2 separate regions of the Homo sapiens genome follow, and region 1 is linked to region 2. Evidence: fine-mapped expression QTL. A gene starts in region 2. The other region holds a variant in brackets. All regions are shown on one strand. Distances are from middle to middle.

Evidence for each region.
Region 1: its variant is fine-mapped to the expression of ANXA9 in whole blood (TOPMed, PIP 0.98).

What each region holds. Positions count from the first base shown.
Region 1 is chr1:150,295,667-150,307,399 of GRCh38, forward strand. All of the region lies in intron 2 of MRPS21 (mitochondrial ribosomal protein S21), which reads left to right. Among named protein-coding and RNA genes, the nearest start is that of MRPS21, 7.7 kb to the left of the region's middle. RefSeq lists an enhancer at 1,376-1,933. The variant T/A (reference allele first, on the strand shown) is at 5,362.
Region 2 is chr1:150,975,935-150,986,496 of GRCh38, forward strand. ANXA9 (annexin A9) reads left to right here and starts at 6,358. Exons shown (of 14, transcript NM_003568.3): 1 at 6,358-6,445; 2 at 6,553-6,649; 3 at 7,156-7,246; 4 at 7,404-7,500; 5 at 8,041-8,135; 6 at 8,347-8,460; 7 at 8,652-8,742; 8 at 10,402-10,481. The coding sequence starts at 7,172. It overlaps LOC105371438 (a long non-coding RNA gene), which reads right to left and starts at 5,571. Exons shown (of 3, transcript XR_922135.3): 1 at 5,487-5,571; 2 at 5,270-5,379; 3 at 4,024-4,152. RefSeq lists a cis regulatory region at 911-1,824 and enhancers at 1,051-1,554, 1,555-2,056, 6,882-7,743.

The sequences.
Region 1 (11,733 bases), 680 kb before region 2:
TGACTCACACCTGTAATCCTAGCACTTTGGGAAGCCTAGTGGGGAGGATTGCTTGTTGCCAAGAGTTCAAGACCAATCTGGTAAACATAGCAAGACCCCATTTCTAAAAATATTAAGAAGAAAGGGAAAAAAAGAAAGATGGGAAAGCTTACAAGTTTTCAGGAAAGATACAGCATAAGGAAAAATACATAAATGGAAACAAACTAGCTGGGGTGGAGGAGCTTTATAGCTTCATTGAAAATTTTTGAATGCCAGGCTAAGAGATGTAGAAGAGCCCTAGTAATACTTTTTTTTTTTTTTTTTTAAAACGGAGTCTTGCTCTGTTGCCAGGCTGGAGCGCAGTGGTGCAGTCTCGGCTCACTGCAGCCTCCGCCTCCTGGGTTCAATTGACTCTTCTGCCTCAGTCTCCTGAGTAGCTGGGACTACAGGTGCCCACCACCACGCCTGGCTGATTTTTGTATTTTTAGTAGAGAGGGTTTCACCACGTTAGCCAAGATGGTCTCAATCTCTTGACCTCGTGATCCACCCGCCTTGGCCTCCCAAAGTGCTGGGATTACAGGCATGAGCCACTGCATCCGGCCCAGCCCTAGTAGTACTTTACCACTGAATTCTCAAGCAAAAAGTTCTTAACCTTCCCTTCTCACCAGTTGTGTGGATTTTGACTTTCTGGTATGACTCACGCGTCATTTTCTTTCCCCAATGTGAAGTAACATTTGGAGAAACAAACGCTTGTTGAGTTGAATTATCAAAGAATTGTAAGGAAGGGGCTCCTGTAGTGCTAGCTGCTCCAGAGGCTGAGGCAAGAGGATTGCTTGAACCCAGGAGTTCAAGACTGTAGTGTGAGTGCACTCTTGTTGTGCCTGTGAATAACCACTCCACTCTAACCTAGGAAGCATAGTGAGACCATGTCTCTTAAAAAAAATGTAGGAAAGATATTGCATGGGCTGCATTAAGGCCTTTAATGTGGTAGCTTTATTTCACAAGTAAGGGAAGCCTTGGAAGATCAGATTATCTTTATTGGGTTATGCAGTTATTGAATGGTGGAGAGGAGCCTAAAGCACATCTTTTTAGTGCAATGTTCTTTAATAATTATTACTAGTCTTACTAGAAATGGAAAGACTTATGGTGGTTCATTTTCCAATTTAGAATCCTTGTCTTGTCATTTCAGCAGGTGTCGCTTTAAAAAAAAAACCAGAATCCTCATCTGATTGGGTTTAAATATTGGTAGGGTTCTTGAGGACTGAGAGGGCAAAGGAAAGGGAACCTAGTTCTTAGCAAAGCAGAGAGTTCTAGGTGTGGAAGGCTGGATGGCAGAAGACCACAGTGAGGAAAAAAATGCTGTCAGCCGGGCGCGGTGGCTCACGCCTGTAATCCCAGCACTTTGGGAGGCCAAGGCGGGCGGATCACGAGGTCAGGACATCGAGACCATCCTGGCTAACACGGTGAAACCCCGTCTCTACTAAAAATACAAAAGATTAGCCGGGCGTGGTGGCACACACCTGTAGTCCCAGCTACTGAGGAGGCTGAGACAGGAGAATCGCTTGAACCCGGGAGGAGGAGGTTGCAGTGAGCCGAGAGCGTGCCACTACACTCCAGCCTGGGCAACAGAGCGAGACTCTGTCTACAAAAAAAAAAAGAAAAAATGCTGTCAGAAGCTGTGTAAATGAGAAGCAGTTGCAGGCTCAGAATGGTTTCTATGTCTTTTAAAAGGATCTGGTCTTAGGGTCAGGCGTGGTGGCTCATGCCTGTAATCCCAGCACTTTGGGAGGTTCAGGCGGGTGGATCACCTGAGGTCAGGAGTTCAATACCAGCCTGGCCAACATAGCGAAACCCTGTCTCTACTAAAAATACAAAATTAGCCATATGTGGTGGCAGGCGCCTGTAATCTCAGCTACTTGGGAGGCTGAGGCAGGAGAATCACTTGAACCTGGGAAATAGAGGCTGCAGTGAGCCAGAATCGTGCCACTGCATTCCAGTCTGGGCCACAGAGTAAGACTCAAAAAAAAAAATCTGGTCTGGGGTCAGCCACATCACTTAATTCTATGTGCATAACAATTATATCCTTGGGCTGAAGCTGTTCCCTCTACATTGTCACCTATGCTGAGAGTAAAGATAAGTACCAGGTTGTAAGGTATCCTGTTTCATTTTTCTCTGTTTCTCCTCATTTCTAACTCTCCTATTTCATACCTTCTGGTGGCATGTCTGAGAAGTATATTATGTCTAATGACCTTTCTCTGGCCCTACTTTGCTATCTTGGAAGTACAAAATGAACTTTTTTTTTTTTGAGACAGAGTTTCACTCTTATTGCCCAAGCTGGAGTGCAATGGTGCCATCTCGGCTCACCGCAACCTCTGCCGCCCATGTTCAAGCGTTTCTCCTGCCTCAGCCTCCTGAGTAGCTGGGATTACAGGCATGCGCCACCAAGCCCAGCTAATTTTGTATTTTTACTAGAGATGGGGTTTCTCCAGGTTAGTCAGGCTGGTCTCTAACTCCCAACCTCACATGATCCACCCGCCTTGGCCTCCCAAAGTGCTGGGATTACAGGCTTGAGCCACTGCACCTGGCCTAAAATGAACGTCTTTATAGGTAACATCCAGACCCTGCAGTGAGTTAGCTAGGGAGATGAATGTTGAATTTGGGAAAAGGCATGTATTACGTGTAACTTCACTCTTTTTTTCTGACTTCTCCCTGTAAATCTTCTTCTGTATGATTTATTTTGGTAGATTTAGATAGGTCTTCTGGCCATGGTTGTTGAGATGTTTGTTATTGAAAGATCAAAGGATAGCTGTTGCTTAATGGTAAAACAAATTTCCAACAGGCTCAGTTTTAGTTCCCTTATTCCTAAAGTATAGATAACACAAAAGCAAGAATTTTGTTTTTAGAAAATTAGCTACTTTGACAAAAAACAACAAAATTTGTGGTACAGTATTATTTATTGAACCACTTTTTTTTTGAGACGGAGTCTCCCTCTGTCGCCCAGGCTGGAGCGCAGTGGCGCAATCTCTGCTCACTGTGACCTCCGCCTCCCGAGTTCAAGCGATTCTCCTGCCTCAGCCTCCCGAGTAGCTGGGACTACAGGCGCATGCCACTACCCCGGCTAATTTTTTGTATTTTTAGTAGAGACGGGGTTTCACCATGTTAGCCAGAATGGTCTCGATCTCCTGACCTCGTGATCTGCCCACCTCAGCCTCCCAAAGTGCTGGGATTACAGGCGTGAGCCACCATGCCCAGCTGAACCACTTCTTACAGTTGTATCAAGAGAGTAGCGGCTGGGTGCAGTGCCTCAGTCTTGTATTCTCAGCAATTTGGGAGGCTAAGAATGGTGGATCACTTGAGGCCAGGAGTTCGAGACTAGCCTGGCCAACATGGCGAAACCCCGTCTTTACTAAAAATACAAAAATTAGCCATGCATGGTGGCACAGGTCTGTAATCCCAGCTACTCCGTAGGCTGAGGCAGAAGAGCCGCTTGAACCTGGGAGGCAGAGACTGCAGTGATGCCCCATATCATATATGGAATGCATCCCCATTTACACCTAAAATTTGAAACAGAATCTGAGAAACAAAATATTTCTAATCTCCTTCCTGATCCTCTTCACTGATACCAGGTTTGCAGAAAATATAAGGCCAGCTCTTATCTTTTGAGAGAAGACTCTTATTTCTTTGTCTAAGATTGTCTATACCCCTTTTTATCTGCCTCTTTTAAAAATCCTTGTCCAGCCACTATATTTTTAATTTAATCAACACTCAGTTTTTGCTTTTCCTGTTTTTTTTTCTGTTTTTTGTTTGTTTGTTTGTTTGTTTGTTTGAGACGATGTCTCGCTCTTGTCCCCCAAGCTGGAGTGCAGTGGCATGATCTCGGCTCACTGCAACCTCCGCCTCCCAGGTTCAAGTGATTCTCCTGCCTCAGCCCCCCGTGTAGCTGGGATTACAGGCACTTGCCACCACGCCTGGCTAGTTTTGGTATTTTTAGTAGAGACGGGGTTTCACCATGTTGGCCAGGCTGGTCTCGAACTCCTGACCTCAGGTGATCCACCCGCCTCTGTCTCCCAAAGTGCTGGGATTACAGGTGTGAGCCACCACACCCAGCCCACATACTACTTTTATGGTTCTCTTTTTGTTGGTGACTGGCATTTTACACAAACCTATTTCCTGGGTCGAAGTGTTAATATTAGAGAGCCGGAGAGTGGTCAGTGTGACACCCTGTGGTTTCAACCCTGGCTGCCTATTAGGATCACCTAGGGAACGAACCATCAAGAAAACAAAACTAATGCCAGGGCCCAATCTGAGATGAATCAGAATCTCCAGGGGTTGCAACCTGGATGGCAGCATTTTAAAAAACATACCATGAGATTTCACCAGGATTGAAAATTATTATAATAGACTTGTAGCCTCCTGGCTGGGCACAGTGACTCATGCCTGTAATCCCAGCACTTTGGGAGGCTGAGGGGGGCGGATCATTTGAGGTTAGGAGTTCAAGACCAGCCTGGCCAACATGGTAAAACCCCGTCTCTACTAAAAATATAAAAATTAGCCGGGTATGATGGTGCATACCTGTAATCCCAGCTATTCGGGAGGCTGAGGCAGGAGAATCGCTTGAACCTGGGAGCTGGAGGTTGCAGTGAGCCGAGATCGCGCCACTGCACTCCAGCCTGGGTGACAAAGTGAGACCCTGTCTCAAAAAAAAAAAGGCTTGTAGCCTCCTTAAGGACAGAAACCTATGCTTTTTCATTTGTGTATCTCTTGGATTTACCAAAGTGTCTGGCACATCCAAAGCTCTCATTAAATGTCTACTTAATGAACATAAATGTTCCTTTATCTTTTTTGTCACTTATTTAATGTTTGTCAAACTTTTTTACTGAAGTGTCGTTAACAGCAGAGGAGAGTGAATGAACTATAGGGGTTCTGCTACTATAAGCAAACATGGAATTTCTTTGAAGCTTCCCTAAATTAAAATGTAAGGTGAACTTCGTATTCGTTGCCATTGCATCTGTTTTATGGGTAACACCCCCACTCCTTCGAGTTAAAATTGGTGCCTCCAGGCAGATGCATCAAATTTGTCCAGAAACTTGTATCCTTTGGCATTCTGTTAATTACCCTGGTTAAGAAGCACAGTATTACCTTTTCTTCAGGGATTAAAACACCAAAGTAGGAGTAGGATTTGGAAAAAAGCAATTTACATTGCTTAAAAAGAAAAGAATTATATTCTTTTCTTTTTAAGAAAGAAGAGGAGTGGTTAGAAAAATAAATTTGGCCAGGCGCGGTGGCTCACCCCTGTAAGCTCAGCACTTTGGGAGGCCGAGGCGGGTGGATCATCTGAGGTCAGGAGTTCAAGACCAGCCTGGCCAACATGATGAAACCCTG[T/A]CTCTACTAAAAAAAATACAAAAATTGGCCGGGCGCGGTGGCTCATGCCTGTAATCCCAGCACTTTGGGAGGCTGAGGGGGGCGGATCACGAGGTCAGGAGATCGAGACCATCCTGGCTAACACAGTGAAACCCCGTCTCTACTAAAAATACAAAAAATTAGCTGGGCGCCGTGGCGGGCGCCTATAGTCCCAGCTACTCGGGAGGCTGAGGCAGGAGAATGACGTGAACCCGGGAGGCGGAGCTTGCAGTGAGCCAAGATGGCGCCATTGCACTCCAACCTGGGGGACGAGAGCGAGACTTCGTCTCAAAAGAAAAAAAATTAGCCGGACATGGTGGCAGGTGCCTGTAATCCCAGCTACTCAGGAGGCTGAGGCAGGAGAATCGCTTGAACCCAGGAGGCGGAGGTTCCAGTGAGCCGAGATCGCGCCATTCATTGCACTCCAGCCTGGGGGACGAGAGCGAGACTTCGTCTCAAAAAAGGAAAAGAAATTCAAGTCCCATAGACTCAGAGTCCCATAAATTGTATTATAGCTTCGCGGGGCAGGGGGGAAATGAACAAATATTTCAGTCTTAGAATAATTTTCTTTTTCCTTTCTTTTTTTTTTAATACGGAGTCTCTCTCTGTTGCCCAGACTGCGTGGTCTCGCCTCACTGCAACCTCTGTCTCCCGGGTTCAAGTGATTCTCCTGCCTCAGCCTCCCGAGTAGCTGGGATTACAGGCACCTGCCACCACGTCCGGCTAATTTTTTGTAGTAGAGACGGGGTTTCACGATGTTGGCCAGGCTGGTCTCAAACTCCTGACCTCATGATTGGCCCGCCCGGCCTCCCAAAGCGCTGGGATTACAGGGGTGAGCCACCGTGCCCGGCCTCTTAGAATAATTTTCTAGGTAAGGACTTTCAAGCTTGCATACGTGAGCAGACTGATTTTGGAGTGATCCAATCTTCTGTTTTCCTGCTGCCTGTTAAACACATTTTCTGACTGATGCACTTTTCTGTTTCTTCTTTTTCTCTGCTTTTCCCAAATGTCCTCTCTCTAGCCACTTTTTCTGTATATCTTTCTCACACTCCAGGCCTCTCCTGATCTCTTTCAGCTTTCTCATAGCTGGTAGTTTAAAAATAATTTGCTTGTTCTGTGGTCTAATTACAACAATAGGTAGGAGAGCAAATGAGTCTAGAGGGAGGTGATTAAAGCTTTACCATGTTTGGAGTACAGAGAGAGTCTTACAAAGGAAATAGCCTACGTGTCTGTCCAGTGAGGCCACCACAAAATGCCTGTTATATAACTGGGGGCCCTCATTGGTGCCCCGGGATGAGAAGGTGGAGAGTGGGGGTTGCTAGGAAGCCCTGCATGATTGGCTGGCCCCCAAGCAAAGAAAGGTGAGTACACTGGAAGCATGCCCTGTTGACTCCTTTTACTCCTAGTGGGCTACCTTCTGGGTCCATTGAGTCCTTCTGCATACACGTCTGTCCTGACGTAGACTGGCTACACTGACATGTGAGTCTGCCACCCGCACCTCCCCCCGCTCCAGGCAGCTTGGCTCCTTTTACATAATCATTTGAATTTCACTAAAACTGGCAGCTGGTTTCTCCTTCAGTATTAGGTTGCCAGGCGCCCGAACTCCAGGCTGATCTGTTTACTCTAAAGCTCTTGATGTACTAGTCCTTGAACTACTTTTGGAAGCAGAAGGAAGCATCATTAGTAACACCCCCTCTATTCTTGTGTTTTACAAAGCTTTTCTTGCATCCTTTTCTGTTAGAGGTAAAGTTGAGTAGATACCTCTACTATAGGGACTCTGGGGCATTTGAAGATAATCTGTGCCTTTTTTAGTATGACTAGAACGTGTCGGGTAAGGGAGGGAATCCTCACCTGGCATCTTGGAATTTATTTGGTCTGTGTTTTGGAAGTAAGTAGTACATCCAGGGAATGCCATTTACCAACCCCCATCATTATATTCTTTCTTTTCCCTTCACCATTCTTATGTTCTTTTGTTATTCTTTTTCCTTGTCTTGCCCTTTTGCCTGACAGTACAGGCATTTCCTTGGTAAGATGATCACCTTTGTTTTAGAAGCCTTTTGGAACTCCAGTAGGGTTCCTTGAGTCATACTCAACCCCTTCCTCCTCTTGCAGTGTTGTTTCATCCTACTTTTAAACTGTCTTTGTCATTCCAATAGGTTCGTCTTCCTAGGTCATATTTACTCAGGGTCTCTGTCGTTTTTATATTCTCTCAAATCCAGTCTCCTTGTACTTTTTACATTATATATCCAATCTTTTTCTTTCAGGGGCTTTTTTCTATATTTTCTCCAATATACTACTTTCTAGTCCAAAAAGCAACCTTCATTAGACAGTATTAAACACAAAGTCTCAGCAGAAATAAATGTTTACATGTTTAGATCATTCTTTTATCCAAGTGTCCCTTATCGGCTTCCATTTCCTCTTTACTCTGATTGAAGAGTCTAGCCCAGCTCTTCACTCCCTCTTTTACCCATGGATACTGCAACAGTTTGTCTTCTGAAATGGGTGGTTTTTGTTTGAGAAGCAGAATACTGTTGTAGAGCACTTTACTAAAGACCTGAATTCTGTTTATAGTTCCATTTTGTGATCTTGGGCGGGTCAGCCTCTCTGAACTTCAGTTTCCTCATCTATAAAAAGAGGACATTATTTGCCTAAACAATTTCATAGGAGTGTAGTTAGGATGATGGATATAAAAATGCTATCTAAACTCTAATATGCCATCGTAGTAAAGGTAATACTATTGAGGCTTTCTGAGCTATATCCCCAATAACTGTATATATTGTAAGGTCACTTAATCCCTTGTGCTATGGACATTTATTAGTCATCTAGAGGACTCATTTTTGGCATACATTTCCTAGTTGTTCTTTGCCAAGTATTTTGTTAGGTGCAAAAGTGAATACAGATTTGATCTCTAACCTTAGAAAAGACACAACCCAATGAGGGGTTCAATGTAATACTGTTTGATCAGTGCTATAAAAGAGACATCAGCCGGGCGTGGTGGCTCACGCCTGCAATCCCAGCACTTTGGGAGGCCGAGGTGGGTGGATCACCTGAGGTCAGGAGTTTGAGACCAGCCTGGCCAACATGGTGAAACCCTGTCTCTACTAAAAATGCAAAAATTATCCAGGTGTGGTGGTACGCCCCTGTAATCCCAGCTACTCAGGAGGCTGAGGCGGGAGAATTGCTTGAACCTGAGAGGTTGAGGCTGCAGTGAGCCAAGATGGTGACACTGCACTCCAGCCTGGGCAACAGAGCGAGGCCCTGCCTACAAAAAAAAAAAAATGGTGCCATGGTGTTGGTTGTCCCTGGACCATCAGCAGCAATATCAGCTGGGAATTGTTAGAAATGCAAATTCTTGGCCCCTACTCTAGGCCTACAGAATCAGAAACTGTGGCACAGCAATCTGTGGTGTTCTTTGAAATAGGGTTTCACAGCCAAGCGCAGTGGCTCATGCCTGTAATCCCAGCACTTTGGGAGGCCAAGGCAGGCAGATCATGAGGTCAGAAGTTCAAGACCAGCCTGACCAATATGGTGAAACTCCGTCTCTACTAAAAATACAAAAATTAGCTGGGCGTGGTGGTGCGTGTCTGTAGTCCCAGCTACTCGGGAGCCTGAGGCAAGAGAATCTCTTGAACCTGGGAGGCGGAGGTTGCAGTGAGCCGAGATCGTGCCACTGCAACTCCTGCCTGGGCAACAGAGCGAGACTCTGTCTCAAAAAAAAAAAAAAGGCCGGTTGCGGTGGCTCATGCCTGTAATCCCAGCACTTTGGGAGGCTGAGGCGGGTGGATCACCTGAGGTCAGGAGTTCGAGACCAGCCTGCCAACATGGCGAAACCTTATGTCTACTAAAAATAACAAAAATTAGCTGGTGCTTGTAATTCCGGCTACTTGGGAAGCTGAGGCAGGAGAATCGCTTGAACCCAGAAGGCGGAGGTTGCAGTGAGCCAAGATTGCGCCATTGCACTCCAGCCTGGGCAACAAGTGCGCAACTCCGTCTCAAAAGAAAGAAAGAAATAGGGTCTTGCTTGCCCAGGCTGGAGTGCAGTGCCACAATCATGGCTCACTGCAGTCTCAACCTCCTGGGATAAAGCATTTCTCCCATTCTCCCATGTCAGCCTCCCAAGTAGCTGGGAGTGCAGGTGTGTGTGCCACCATGTCTGGTTAATTTTTATTTTTTGTGGAGATGGGGTTCTCACTATGTTGCTCAGGCTAGTGTCAAACTCCTGGGCTCAAGTGATCCTCCCAGCTCGGCCTCCCAAAGTCCTGGGATTACAGGTGTGAGCCACCATGGCCAGCCAGCAATCCCTGTTTTAACAAGCTTTCCAGATGACTACTGCATGCCAAAGTTTGATTTCACCTGAACTAGTTTACAGATGTGATAACAATTGATTTGGGCCTTTGAGGAACAAGTAGGATTTCATCAGGAAGAAAAAGAAAAGAATGATATTCCAAGTAAAGGGAACATCATGAGCAAAGAAAAAAACAAGTATGTAGGATGCTTGGAGAACTGCATATACTTAAGTGTGACTAGAGCATAGGCATTATAGGGCACGTGTTTTGTTTTTGTTTTTTGAGATGGAGTCTCCATCTTTTGCCCAGCTGGAGTGCAGTGCCTTGATCTCGGCTCATTGCAACCTCCACCTCCCAGGTTCAAGCTATTCTCCTGCCTCCGCTTCCCGAGTAGCTGGGATTACAGGTGGGCACCACCATGCCCAGCTAATTTTTGTATTTTTAGTAGAGATGGGGTTTCACCATGTTGGCCAGGCTTGTCTCGAACTCCTGACCTCAAGTGATCAGTAGGGCAGGTTATTAAAAGATATATATATAGGGGGCAATTGTTTGGGCTTTGAGCTTAGACTAGTAGTTCCAAAATCTGTCTGTACATTGGAATCACCTTGGAAACTGAAAAACCTGCTCATGTCCCTTTCCCTCTCCTTTGTGATTTAATTGGACTGGGTGTGGCCCAGGGTTCGGAATGTTTAAAAGATCCCTGGGCAGTTCTGATGTGCAGATGATTCTGGGAACTTTAGTGGCTTAGGCCACTCTGTATATTAGGAAAGATTTTTTAGCACCAGAGTGACATGATCTGATTTATGTTTTAGGGCAATAATTGGTGTAGGAAAAGAGAGTGGAAATAGGGCAACCTACTTATTCACATTTCAGATGAGTTGTTCTTTAGGATCCCTTCACAACCACTTTCTTGTTCTCAAGTTCAGGTTTAATGCCTCCTGTGAGTTTGTTTTTGTTTTGTTTTTCCTTGAGACAAGAGTCTGTTGCCCAGGCTGGAGTGCAGTGGCACCATCTCGGCTCACTACAGCCTCCACCCCGAGTTCAAGGGATTCTCCTGCCTCAGCCTACTGAGTACAGGTGCCCACCACTACGCCTGGCTAATTTTTGTATTTTTAGTAGAGGTGGGGTTTCACCATGTTGGCCAGCCTGGTCTTGAACTCCTGACCTCAAGTGATCTTTTTGAGATGGAGTTTCACTCTTGTTGCCCAGGCTGGAGTGCAGTGGCGCAACCTTGGCTTACTGCAATCTCCGCCCCCAGGGTTCAAGCAATTCTCCTGCCTCAGCCTTCCGAGTAGCTGGGATTACAGGCATACACCACCATGCCCGGCTAATTTTGTATTTTTAGTAGAGACAGGGTTTCTCCATGTTGGTCAGGCTGGTCTCAAACTCCTGACCTCAGGTGATCCGCCCACCTCGGCCTCCCACAGTGCTGGAATTACAGGTGTGAGCCACCAGCCTGACAGGATGGAACTTTAAGTAAGAGAATCACCTTAAGAATCACCCCTAGTGATTCTGTTCTTACTGAAAATGGCTCTCCCCAGTTGAGGTCTCTGAAATGCCCCATTAGTTGAGAATCATTGCTGTAGGGAGACATGTTCTTCAGGTACTGTATCATATCCCTCAGGTGTGTTGTGGTAGAGTAGATTTGAGAACATAACTTTGACTATAAACTCTCCAAGAGCAAGGGCCATGTAATTAATTGCTTTTTTATTTCCCCAATTTTTTTTTTTTGAGACAAGAGTCTCACTCTGTTGCCCAGGCTGGAGTGCAGTGGTGCAATCTCAGCTCACTGCAACCTCCACCTCCTAGGTTCAAACACTTCTCCTGCCTGCCTCCTGAGTAGCTGGGAGGGACTATAGGCGCCCGCCATCATGCCCAGCTAATTTTTGTATTTTTAGTAGAGACGGGGTTTCACCATATTGGTCAGGCTGGTCTCGAACTCCCGACCTCAGGTGATCCACCTGCCTCGGCTTCCCGAAGTGCTAGGATTACAGGCATGAGTCACTGTGCCCAGTCCTTTTTTTTTTTTTTTTTTTTTTCCTTTGAGTCAAGGTGTCACTCTGTTGTC
Region 2 (10,562 bases):
GTGGCCGAGGTGGGCAGATCACTTGAGGTCAGAGTTCAAGACCAGCCTGGTCAACATAGCGAGACCCCCAACTCCTTTATAAATTTAAAAAAAAAAAGTTTTCCCCTTGAGTCGTGTGGTAAAATTACTGTTTCAGAAGTAATTACTGTTGGAAGATGCAACATGGTTTTCCTAGAAAGCTGGTCTTAACTCCTAACGTGAACGAGTGGTGACTAAGATGTATTTGAGGGCTCCTATACAGGGAGAGCTGCAGCTTACTCCATGGAGAGGTACTTTTGTCAAATTTCTCACCTAGATGAAGTATTGCCTTTTTTATGCTGTTGCAATCAGAGCCTCTGACAGTAGCTTGTTTCCCCGTTTATCTGGTCAAGTACTCGTAGGAAGGAGTGCAACCCCCACTAATCCAGTTGGAGGGCCCATCCCTCATCTCAGGCCCTTTCTGGAGGGTAAGGAGGTAGAGGCTGTCCGACCCAACTGTTTGTTCTGCCTCTCTTTTCAGGGGGACCCGCAGCCCTGACACACCATGGGAAAGATGAGAGTGGTGGCCCCTAACCAGCTCCCAGGGTTTCTCTAGGCTTTTCTAAGCCCCAGGCCTGCCTGATCTCCCAGTTTCCAGCAACCCCTCCAGCTGTGTTTTTCTCCTCCCTCCCTTATTAGCATATCTTCCATTGTATCTTTCTTTCCTTTCTTTTTTTTTTTTTTCCTTTGGAGAGGAGGTCTCACTCTGTCACTGCAGCCTCGACCTTCCAGGCTCAAGCTATCCTCCACCTCAGCCTCCCAAGTAGCAGGGACCACAGGCGACGCCACCATGCCCGGCTAATTTTTGTATTTTTGAGATTTCACCATGTCGCTCACGCTGGTCGTGAACTCCTGAGCTCAAACCATCCACCCGCCTTGGCCTTTCAAAGTGCTGGGATTACAAGCATGAGCCACCTTGCATCCCAATTGTCTCTTTCTACCCCCTTGGAACTCTCCTCCTTCAGCCTTCTAATTCCAAAGTTCCCTCTTCCTTTCTTCAGTGCTCTCCCCAGAGTCCTTATCTGCTACACACCTACACACCTTTTTTCCAGCATAGTTCCAGGGCTCTTTGGGCCGCAGCTCACCTTCGGGTCTCTAACACTCTCCACACCTCCGTCCTATTCATCTTCCTTCTTTTAGTTCTGAATCCCTTTCTTGTGGTTTTCCTAAGTGCCAGGCTTTCCTGTAGTCCCTACCAGACTTTTCAAATGCTTCCTCAGGAGAACTGAAGACTGGTTAACTTTTTTTTCTTTTTTTTAAGATAGCAGTGGGGAGGGGAAGTTCTGGGGCAGAAGTTGGATAACCAGGGCCTGAGAAATAAAGATAAGAGGGTATATTCCTCCCCCAGGAGACAAAAGAGAAGGTGGATGGAGAAGGGGAAACTGGGCCTCAGCCAGCACCGGGATGATGCGACCAGCTTTGTCAGCACGCTTGGGGAGCATACACACCGCTTGCCTTGGCTGGACCGGAGACTGTGATCACCACCCTTCCAACCCATCCCCCAACACGCAGGCTGGCATGGCCACGCCCACAGTGCCCCAAGTGCTGCCTGCCTTGCAGTGACTCACTTCCTCTGTATGGGCTGCTGAACTGTCCCAAGGAGAGGACAGGCCATCTCCAGGCCTTCAGCCCCGAGTTTAGATATCTGGGCAGGCTTTGTGGATGGGCAAGCATACAGGGAGCCCAAATGTGGAAGGTAGGTTTTTTCAGGTCAGGTGGAACTGTTAACACTGAAGCCTATTTGGGTAAGAAGCAGAGCCTAGCTAGTACCTAATGGAGATTCAGGGGCCAGGAGTATCGGGGAGGAAACATTTCCTAACAGAGAGGTAAAATAGCCAAGAGGAGTTTCTATGTATTCTGAAATCAGGCAATGGAAAGTATTTGCAGAAAAGCAATGTAGGGACCAGGCGTGGTGGCTTATGCCTGTAATCCCAACACTTTGGGAGGCCGAGGTGGGTGGATCACCTGCGGTCAGGAGTTCAAGACCAGCCTGCCCAACATGGTGAAACCTCATCTCTACTAAAAATACAAAAGTTAGCTAGGCATGGTGGCACATGCCTGTAGTTCCAGCTACTTTGGAGGCTGAGGCAGGAGAATTGCTTGAACCTAGGAGGGTGAGGTTGCAGTGAGCCGAGATCATGCCACTGCCCTCCAGCCTGGCAACAGAGTGAGACTCCATCTCAAAAATAAATAAAAGGCTGGGTGCAGTGATTCATGCCTATAATTCCAGCACTTTGGGAGGCCGAGGTGGGCGGATAACCTGAGGTCAAGAGTTTGGGACCAGCCTGGCCAACATGGTGAAACCCTGTCTCTACTAAAAATACAAAAATTAGCTGGGTGTGGTGGTGGGCCCTGTAATCCCAGCTACTCGGGAGGCTGAGGAAGGAGAATCACTTGAACCTGGGAGGCAGAGGTTACAGTGAGCTGAGATCACACCACTGCACTCCAGCCTGGGTGACAGAGTAAGACTCGGTCTCAATAAATAAATAAATAAAAGCAATGTGGGACTTGGAGGCTGAAGAGGTGGACATGCATGAACAGTGGAGGCGGTGTATGTGGCTGCCTTTCCCCTGTATTCCACTGAGAGGGAGCCCAAATCTGCCTCGCCTGCATTGAGGGATGAAGAAAACACTGAGAGGCAGCTGAGAAACATGGATGCTAGTTCCAACTCCATGGCCTCGGGAAGTCACTCAGACTCCTTGAGTCAGTAATGAAAAGGTAGTAGATTAGAGGCTGGGCGCAGTGGCTCATGCCTGTAATCCCAACACTTTGGGAGGCCGAGGTGGGCGGATCACAAGGTCAGGAGTTCAAGACCAGCCTGGCCAACATGGTGAAACACTGTCTCTACTAAAAATACAAAAATTAGCTGGGCATGGTGGTGCATGCCTGTAATCCCAGCTACTCAGGAGGTTGAGGCAGGAGAATTGCTTGAACCAGGGAGTCGGAGGTTGCAATGAGCCGAGATCGCGCCATTGCACTCTAACCTGGGCAACAGAGTGAGACTCTGTCTCAAAAAAAAGAAAAGAAAAGGTGGTAGATTAGATCCTCTCTAAGATTTCCTCCAACTCTGCAATTCTAAAATGTACAACATGGGGAAGGAAGGTGATCAGTACAACTGTAAACAACTGCAATCCGGCCCTGAAGTTGAACAAAACAAAACCTAGGGAGAGGAATGAGTTTGTAGCAGGTTTCAATGCAGCGATTGTGAACGCATCACACACACACTCCTCACAGGCAAGGACTTCGCTTCTGCCATGTGACTGAGACTCTGTTGGACTTCTCCAAATTCAGAGTTCAGCCTGGCATGCCGGCCAGGAGCCCCTTGGAGAGATTCGGCGTGAGGAAACAGGAGGCCTCACGCTTCCTTCGGTTCTCCCTAAATCTGCTGGGCAGGTAGCCAGAAGAAACTCTGAAGGGTACAGAAAGCCGAGGGCCAGGGGGACCCCGGCTGCGGAGCTGCAGTACCGTGTTTACCCAGCCTAACTGCGGTCACCCAGTCTCCTGCATGTGTCTGAGGTCAGCCTCGGGGGCTCCCCTGAGTAGGTATCTACCTGAGGCTCTTCCCCTGATGCTACCTGCATACCAATTCCACCCAGGAACCTGGCGTCCTCAGGAGGCTGCACTTCCCAAGTGGGCTGAGACAGCCCCTTAATATGTGGGGCTGGAGCCAGAGACCTCAAGGGGCCACTAGGGGGCTCGAGACTCTCAGTGGCTGCTGACGCCCTCTTGTGGCCATTTTGGGGATTGGCCAGAAAAGTTTCAGAAGCGAGCCAAGATCGGAATTCTTAAGGAGGTAAGTAATAACAACAGTAACAGTTACCATATAACAATACTTATCGTTATATATTTGATAACATTGTGACATTTCTACTTAACAGCGCTGTGCCCAGAACTCTTCTAAGTGCTTTATATGCACTGTAGTTATTTAATTCTCACAACAACCTATAACATAAACACTATTACTTGTCTGTTGATGATGAGGAAACTGAGCACAGAATAGTTGCCCAAGGTCACACAGAAGACCAGAATCCCGACTCTGAGAAGTCTGGCTCCAGAAGCTTTGCTTTTAGCCACCACGCTGAGACTGAGTTCCATTTTGGGGTTGTCAGGTGAAATACAGGACACACTGTTAAACTATAATTTCAGATAAACAAAAAATAATAATTACAGGCGGTGGCTCACGCCTGTAATCCCAGCACTTTGGGAGTCCAAGGCAGGTGGATCACGAGGTCAGGAGTTCGAGACCAGCCTGGCCAACATGGTGAAACCCTATCTCTACTAAGAATACAAAAAATTAGCCAGGCATGATGGCAGGCGCCTATAATCCCAGCTACTCGGGAGGCGGAGGCAGGAGAATCGCTTGAACCCGGGAGGTGGAGCTTGCAGTGAGCCAACATAATGCCACTGCACTCCAGCCTGGGCAACAGAGAGAGACTCCGCCTCAAAAAAAAAAATGTTAGTATATTTAATGAAATATTTGGGTCATACTTGTACCAACAAATGATTCCTCATTTACGTGAAATTCTGATTAAGCTGCATGTCCTGTATATTTATTTATTTAATCTAATACCCCTACTTTACAGGGCACTTTTCTCTGCCACATGCAATTACACAGATTACTTTTTTTTTTTTTTTTTTTTTTTGAGACGGAGTCTCACTCTGTCGCCCAGGCTGTGGAGTGCAGTGGCGCCATCTCAGCTCACTGCAACCTCTGCCTCCCAGGTTCAAGTGATTCTCCTGCCTCAGCCTCCCGAGTAGCTGGGATTACAGGCATGCGCCGCCATGCCCGGCTAATTTTTTGTATTTTTAGTAGAGACGGGGTTTCACTGTGTAAGCCAAGGCTGGTCTCGATCTCCTGCCTCATGATCCACCCGCCTCGGCCTCACAAAGTGCTGGGATTACAGGCATGAGCCACCGTGCCTGGCCACATTACCTTATTTATTTATTTATTTATTTATTTATTTTTATGAGTTCAATAGTTTTTGGGGACAAGGTGGTGTTTGGTTACATGGATAAGTTCTTTAGTGGACACATTACTTCATTTAATCATCCCAGGAAACCTGTCCTCGGAGGCCCCAGCATGTCCCACAGCCTCCGTCTCTCTCAATCCTCCCATTTAGAGAGCTGAAAGGACTAGCGAAGCTTACAGAACATAGGTGGCAGAGCTGGATATTGAACCCTCATTCTCCAGTTCTGACACAGGTGCATGTTTTCCTTTTAACAGGAGAGAAAAGTGAGGAGCAGTGATTACCGCCACAGAAATATCCTTTCATGGCGTGTCCTCCGGCATGGTCTACTCAGTGTGGTGGAGCCACTGCAGGTCCCTCCTCCAGGGATGTAGGAATGCCAGTGAAGGCCTTCCTGAGTTGGGAGAGAGGCAGAGGAGTGAGTGGAGGCAGGGCTGTAGCTTCTGTGCCCCGCCCCTACCCAGGCTCTCCAGGGAGGCAGGAAAGAGGCTGTGTTTAGACCTGAGGGAGCCAGCTGTGAGGCTGGAGCAGTTGCTGCATGGCGGGGCGGGGGCTCCACAGGGCTGTTCACCTGCTGCTCTGTGCAGAGACAGCCTCAAGTCCAGCTGCTGGGGTTGCATCACCTGCAGCTAAAACAGCCACAGGGCCCAGGCTGCCAAAAGGCAACAGAAGCAATCTAAGAAACCAGGCAAGGGAGCCTCCCCCATCTCCCTGTTGCCTTTTGGGAGCATAGAGCTTCCCTCTGAAGGTAACACCCTTTGCATTTTTCTCTCTTGACTCTGTTCATCAACTTCCACTCCCAAATACTTGTGCCCTTCCTTCTCCACAGATATACACAATCCCTGGGCACTCTCCACCTAGGTCAGCTGGCTCTAGTAAGGCAGCAGTCAAGGGAGTTTCTGGGCTGGGACCCCCTCTGGGGTGCAGGCTGGGGTGCCCTGCTGGTATGTGCCCCAACAGGTTTTTCCCTATCAGCCTTGAAATCAGCCTGCAGCCTGTCTGACCTGCCCCCCAGGGAGCTGGAGCCAGAGGCAGAGCCAGGTCAGAAGCTGGGGCAGAGCCAGGTCAGAAGCTGGACTTTGAGACTAGGTCTCTGTGGTCCCACCTGGACCCACAGGGAAGGCAGTGCATAAAAGCCTCCTGTGTTTGAGGCTGAGCCGCTGAGAGGCTGAGTGGAGTTCACTCACATGGATTGAGGCCCAGTTCCTGGGAGAAGAGATGCTGGGCAGGAAGGTGTCTGCATGTGGGACTCTGTACAGCCCGGTCCTCTCCCACGTCTGGGAGGGGCCAGAGTCAGACAACTGCTGGGTTCGTCCCTAAGAGAGGTCATCTGACTGGCTGTTCAGCCTAGGCTGCACACACCCCCACTTTCCTCTACCAGGCCACACCGGAGGCAGTGCTCACACAGGCAAGCTACCAGGCCACAACAACGACACCCACCTCACCTCTGGCACCTCTGAGTAAGTACTGGGCCCACGGCCCCATGCCAGGAGGGCTTGTTGATTGCTTGGGGGAGGGAAAAATGAGTTTTCCTTTTCCAACATGAGAGTGCCTCCTTTCTGTCCAGGCATCCACGTACTTGCAAGAACTCTTGCTCACATCAGCTAAGAGATTGCACCTGCTGACCTAGAGATTCCGGCCTGTGCTCCTGTGCTGCTGAGCAGGTAGGCAGCTGTACAGGCAGGAATTGAGGGTTGCTTGTCAGCTGGGGCTGCCGGTGGGGGAAGATGCTATTTCGAGTTGTCTTCCACTCTGCGTGGTTAATCCTGCCACCTCACCTCAGCTCCCCTGCACTGCCCAGGAGACCCCAGCCAGGCCCAGGAAGGAGGGCCATAGACCTCAGAAGGGAGGCATCTACCGCGGACCAAGGCCTGAGGAGCTTTGGTGCTGACCCTGGCATCAGGGAGGGTTGGCGCCTGGTCCAGGAGCATTCCGCATCAATCCCCACTTCCTAAAGGAGTGGGGAGAGGTGGGGAAGGTGGGGGCTCCCCTCTTACCTCACCATTTCAGCTCCATTTCTGGCTCCAAGCCTAAGCAGGTTGATCTTTTTTTCTGCAGCAAGGAAAGGAACAGGTGACTGGAACCCAGGGTCCAGGGTCTCGGGGGGGTCATAAGGAGTCCCTGAAGGGCCAGGAAATTCAGCTCTGTGGGCTCCTGTTTCCTTCCCCAGGGCAACCAGTAGCACCATGTCTGTGACTGGCGGGAAGATGGCACCGTCCCTCACCCAGGAGATCCTCAGCCACCTGGGCCTGGCCAGCAAGGTAGGGGCTGTTGGGATTTTAGAGATCACTTTTAGTATCTCAGCTCGGGCTGTGAGAGGATGGGAGGCAGGAAAGTGGAGGACAGGCCCTGAGGTTATGCTGAGGAGGTGTAGGCAGCCTGGCCCTGGCCCTTGCCAACTACCCTGTGCTCCCACAGACTGCAGCGTGGGGGACCCTGGGCACCCTCAGGACCTTCTTGAACTTCAGCGTGGACAAGGATGCGCAGAGGCTACTGAGGGCCATTACTGGCCAAGGTGAGCCCCTTTCCCCCGGCACTTGAGACTGCCTTTTAGAGCCAATCTGTAGACCAAGGAGGAGCCAGGAAGGAGGAACTAGTGATGTTGGAGAAATGTTTGTGGAATGCCTTCATTCTTGTATGTCAGGCGCCACAGTAGGTGTGTCAAACCCATTCTCACAACACCCCTGTGAGGCAAGGCTTATTATTTCCATTTTCCAGATGAGGAAACTGGGGCTCAGGGAGATTAAGAGGCTTGCCCAAGGTCACTCAGCTCATGACGGAGGTGGTATTCTCATCTAGGTCAGCCGATCCCCCCAAGTCGTATTTTTTTTTAACCACCACACCAGGCCACCTTTGCCTTGGTCTGGGTCAGATTTGCATGCTGTTTTGACATTTTATTTGCAACTTCTTTTGAGATAAAATGGAAGTGGGGGTGATATAGCCCCTGCTCCTTTCCTTCCCAGCCCTCTCCTGGAGCGCCTTCCCTCCTCCAAGGAGTAGGAACATCCCACTATGTAAAGACCCTGCTCACAGCACAGCCCTCATCTCGGTTCAGGCGTGGACCGCAGTGCCATTGTGGACGTGCTGACCAACCGGAGCAGAGAGCAAAGGCAGCTCATCTCACGAAACTTCCAGGAGCGCACCCAACAGGTGAGGCCATGCTGACCTCCCACAGCAGTGGACTGGGGTGAGAAACCCCCTGGAGGACTCGAGAGACAGCAACAGCCGCTGAGGCCAGCCCCTGCTTCCTGGCTAAACAGGGCCTGAGATGAAAACCAGCCAAATCTTCCCAAACCTCCCCACACTTCTGGGGCCCTTCCCCTCACCCCCGTCCCTCTGCTGTGAGGACCATTTATTGTAGGACCTGATGAAGTCTCTACAGGCAGCACTTTCCGGCAACCTGGAGAGGATTGTGATGGCTCTGCTGCAGCCCACAGCCCAGTTTGACGCCCAGGAATTGAGGACAGCTCTGAAGGTAGCAGGAGGGGAGACTTGCTGGGGTGTCTGGGGAAGGGAGAAGGCTGTCAGCCTTGCTTTTGCAAGACGAGAGTCCCCCTCTCGTCGTCCCATATTGTTTCTTAGAAGGAGAAGCAGCCAGCGTCTGCCCCTCTGTCTGCCATCCTAATGACACGGCCAGTCTGAGAGTAGACTCCCAATTTCTTGTAGGCCTCAGATTCTGCTGTGGACGTGGCCATTGAAATTCTTGCCACTCGAACCCCACCCCAGCTGCAGGAGTGCCTGGCAGTCTACAAACACAGTAAGAATATAGAGGGAGGGGTCCCAGATGCTGGAGAAGGGGCTGTAGGACAGGCCACTCCTCTCCTGTACTCCCCATAGGTGAGCTATCTGGCAACCTGGCTGCCTAAGTTCTATTCCCTTGGGGTCTTTCCTCTTGCCCCCACCAGTGCCTCAGTCTCTCAGGGGAGAGACCCAGATGTGATCATTAAAAAAAGAGAAGCAGGCCAGGTACGGTGACTCATGCCTGTCACCCCAACACTTTGGGAGGCTGAGGTGGGCAGGTCACTTGAGCCCAGGAGTTCAAGACCAGTCACAGGCAATAAAGGAAAACCTCATCTGTGCTAAAAATTCAAAAAAACCAGCTGGTCATGGTGGTGTGCGCCTGTGGTCCCAGCTACTCAGGAGTTTGAGGTGGGAGGATCACCCCAGCTTGGGAAGTTGAGGCTGCAGTGAGCTGAGATCGTGCCACTGCCACTGCACACCAGCCTGGGTGACAGGAGTGAGAGCATGTCTCTCTCTCTCTCTCTCTCTCTCACACACACACACACACACACACACACACAAATAAAGAGAGAGAAGCAATGATTAACCATCTTAATCTGGAGCTCCAAGGCAGATTCCAAAGTGACAGTCCCAAAGGTACTCATGTCACCTTCCCAGCCCCTTGCCATCCCTGCCATCACACCACATTCCAAGCTGAACCCAGCCATGCTGCAGCCTGAGGAAAAGGTGGGAATCTGCCCTCTGAGTCATGGGTGTCACCTTTCATGTCCCTGATGGCTGGCCTTGCTTGGCTACAAGTGTCTCACCCACTAATTTGTGGCTTTTTCCCATCCTCATCTTACCACCCCTTCCCCCCACCCCTACCTCTTTTTCTTGCTTTCCCCAATTTTCCTTTGATGTCTAATCTTGGCCTATGTTCTTCTTTTGAGACAAGGTCTTGCCCTGTAGCCTAGGCTGTGCAGTGATGTCATCATGGCTCACTGCAGCCTTGACCCTTCTGGGCTCAATCAGTCCTCCCACCTCAGCCTCCTAAGTAGCTGGGACTACAGGTGTGCCACCACCATGCCCAGCTAAATTTTGTATTTTTTGTAGAGATGGGGTTTCGCTGTGTTGTCCAGGCTGGTCTCGAACTTCTGGGCTCAAGCCATCTCCTGCCTCAGCCTCTGAAAGTGCTGGGATTACAAGCATGAGCCACCGCCCTGGCCGTGGCCTATGTTCTTAATCCCTCTCCTACCTTCCTTCCTTCTTGCATCTGTTTCCCTTTTCTCTTTCTTTTTCTCCCTTTCCTGCTCTTTTCCTTCCTCATATCCCACCTCTCATATCATTTTTCCTTACCTCCAATGAGGGTGCCAGGTCCTAACCATCTTGTGTTATAATACGGGTTTCCCTAGCTCTTCTTCACTGCCTGGCCCCAACTCTAATAATGGTTGCCTCCTGCCCAGCAGGTTGGTGCTTGGTGATGAAGCCACTGCACACCTCACAACTTAGAGATGTTTTTAGAGTGGCCGTGATGGTACTTGTGCCTTACATCCTGGGAATTAGCAGCCATCAAGCTACTCCAAGCAGGGGCTAGCAGGGCTGGCAGGGTATAGCGGGTCAGGCATTTGGCAGGTCCTGGGGATATCTACACTAGGAAAACTCAGGAGGATTCAGAGAGCTCCTCACCCCACCCCAGATTTCCAGGTGGAGGCTGTGGATGACATCACATCTGAGACCAGTGGCATCTTGCAGGACCTGCTGTTGGCCCTGGCCAAGGTGAGGAGGACTGACCTGCAAGGAAGGGAGTCACGTTCACCAGGCAAGGAGACACGCTGGAGCAGGGAGCATTGCTGTCCT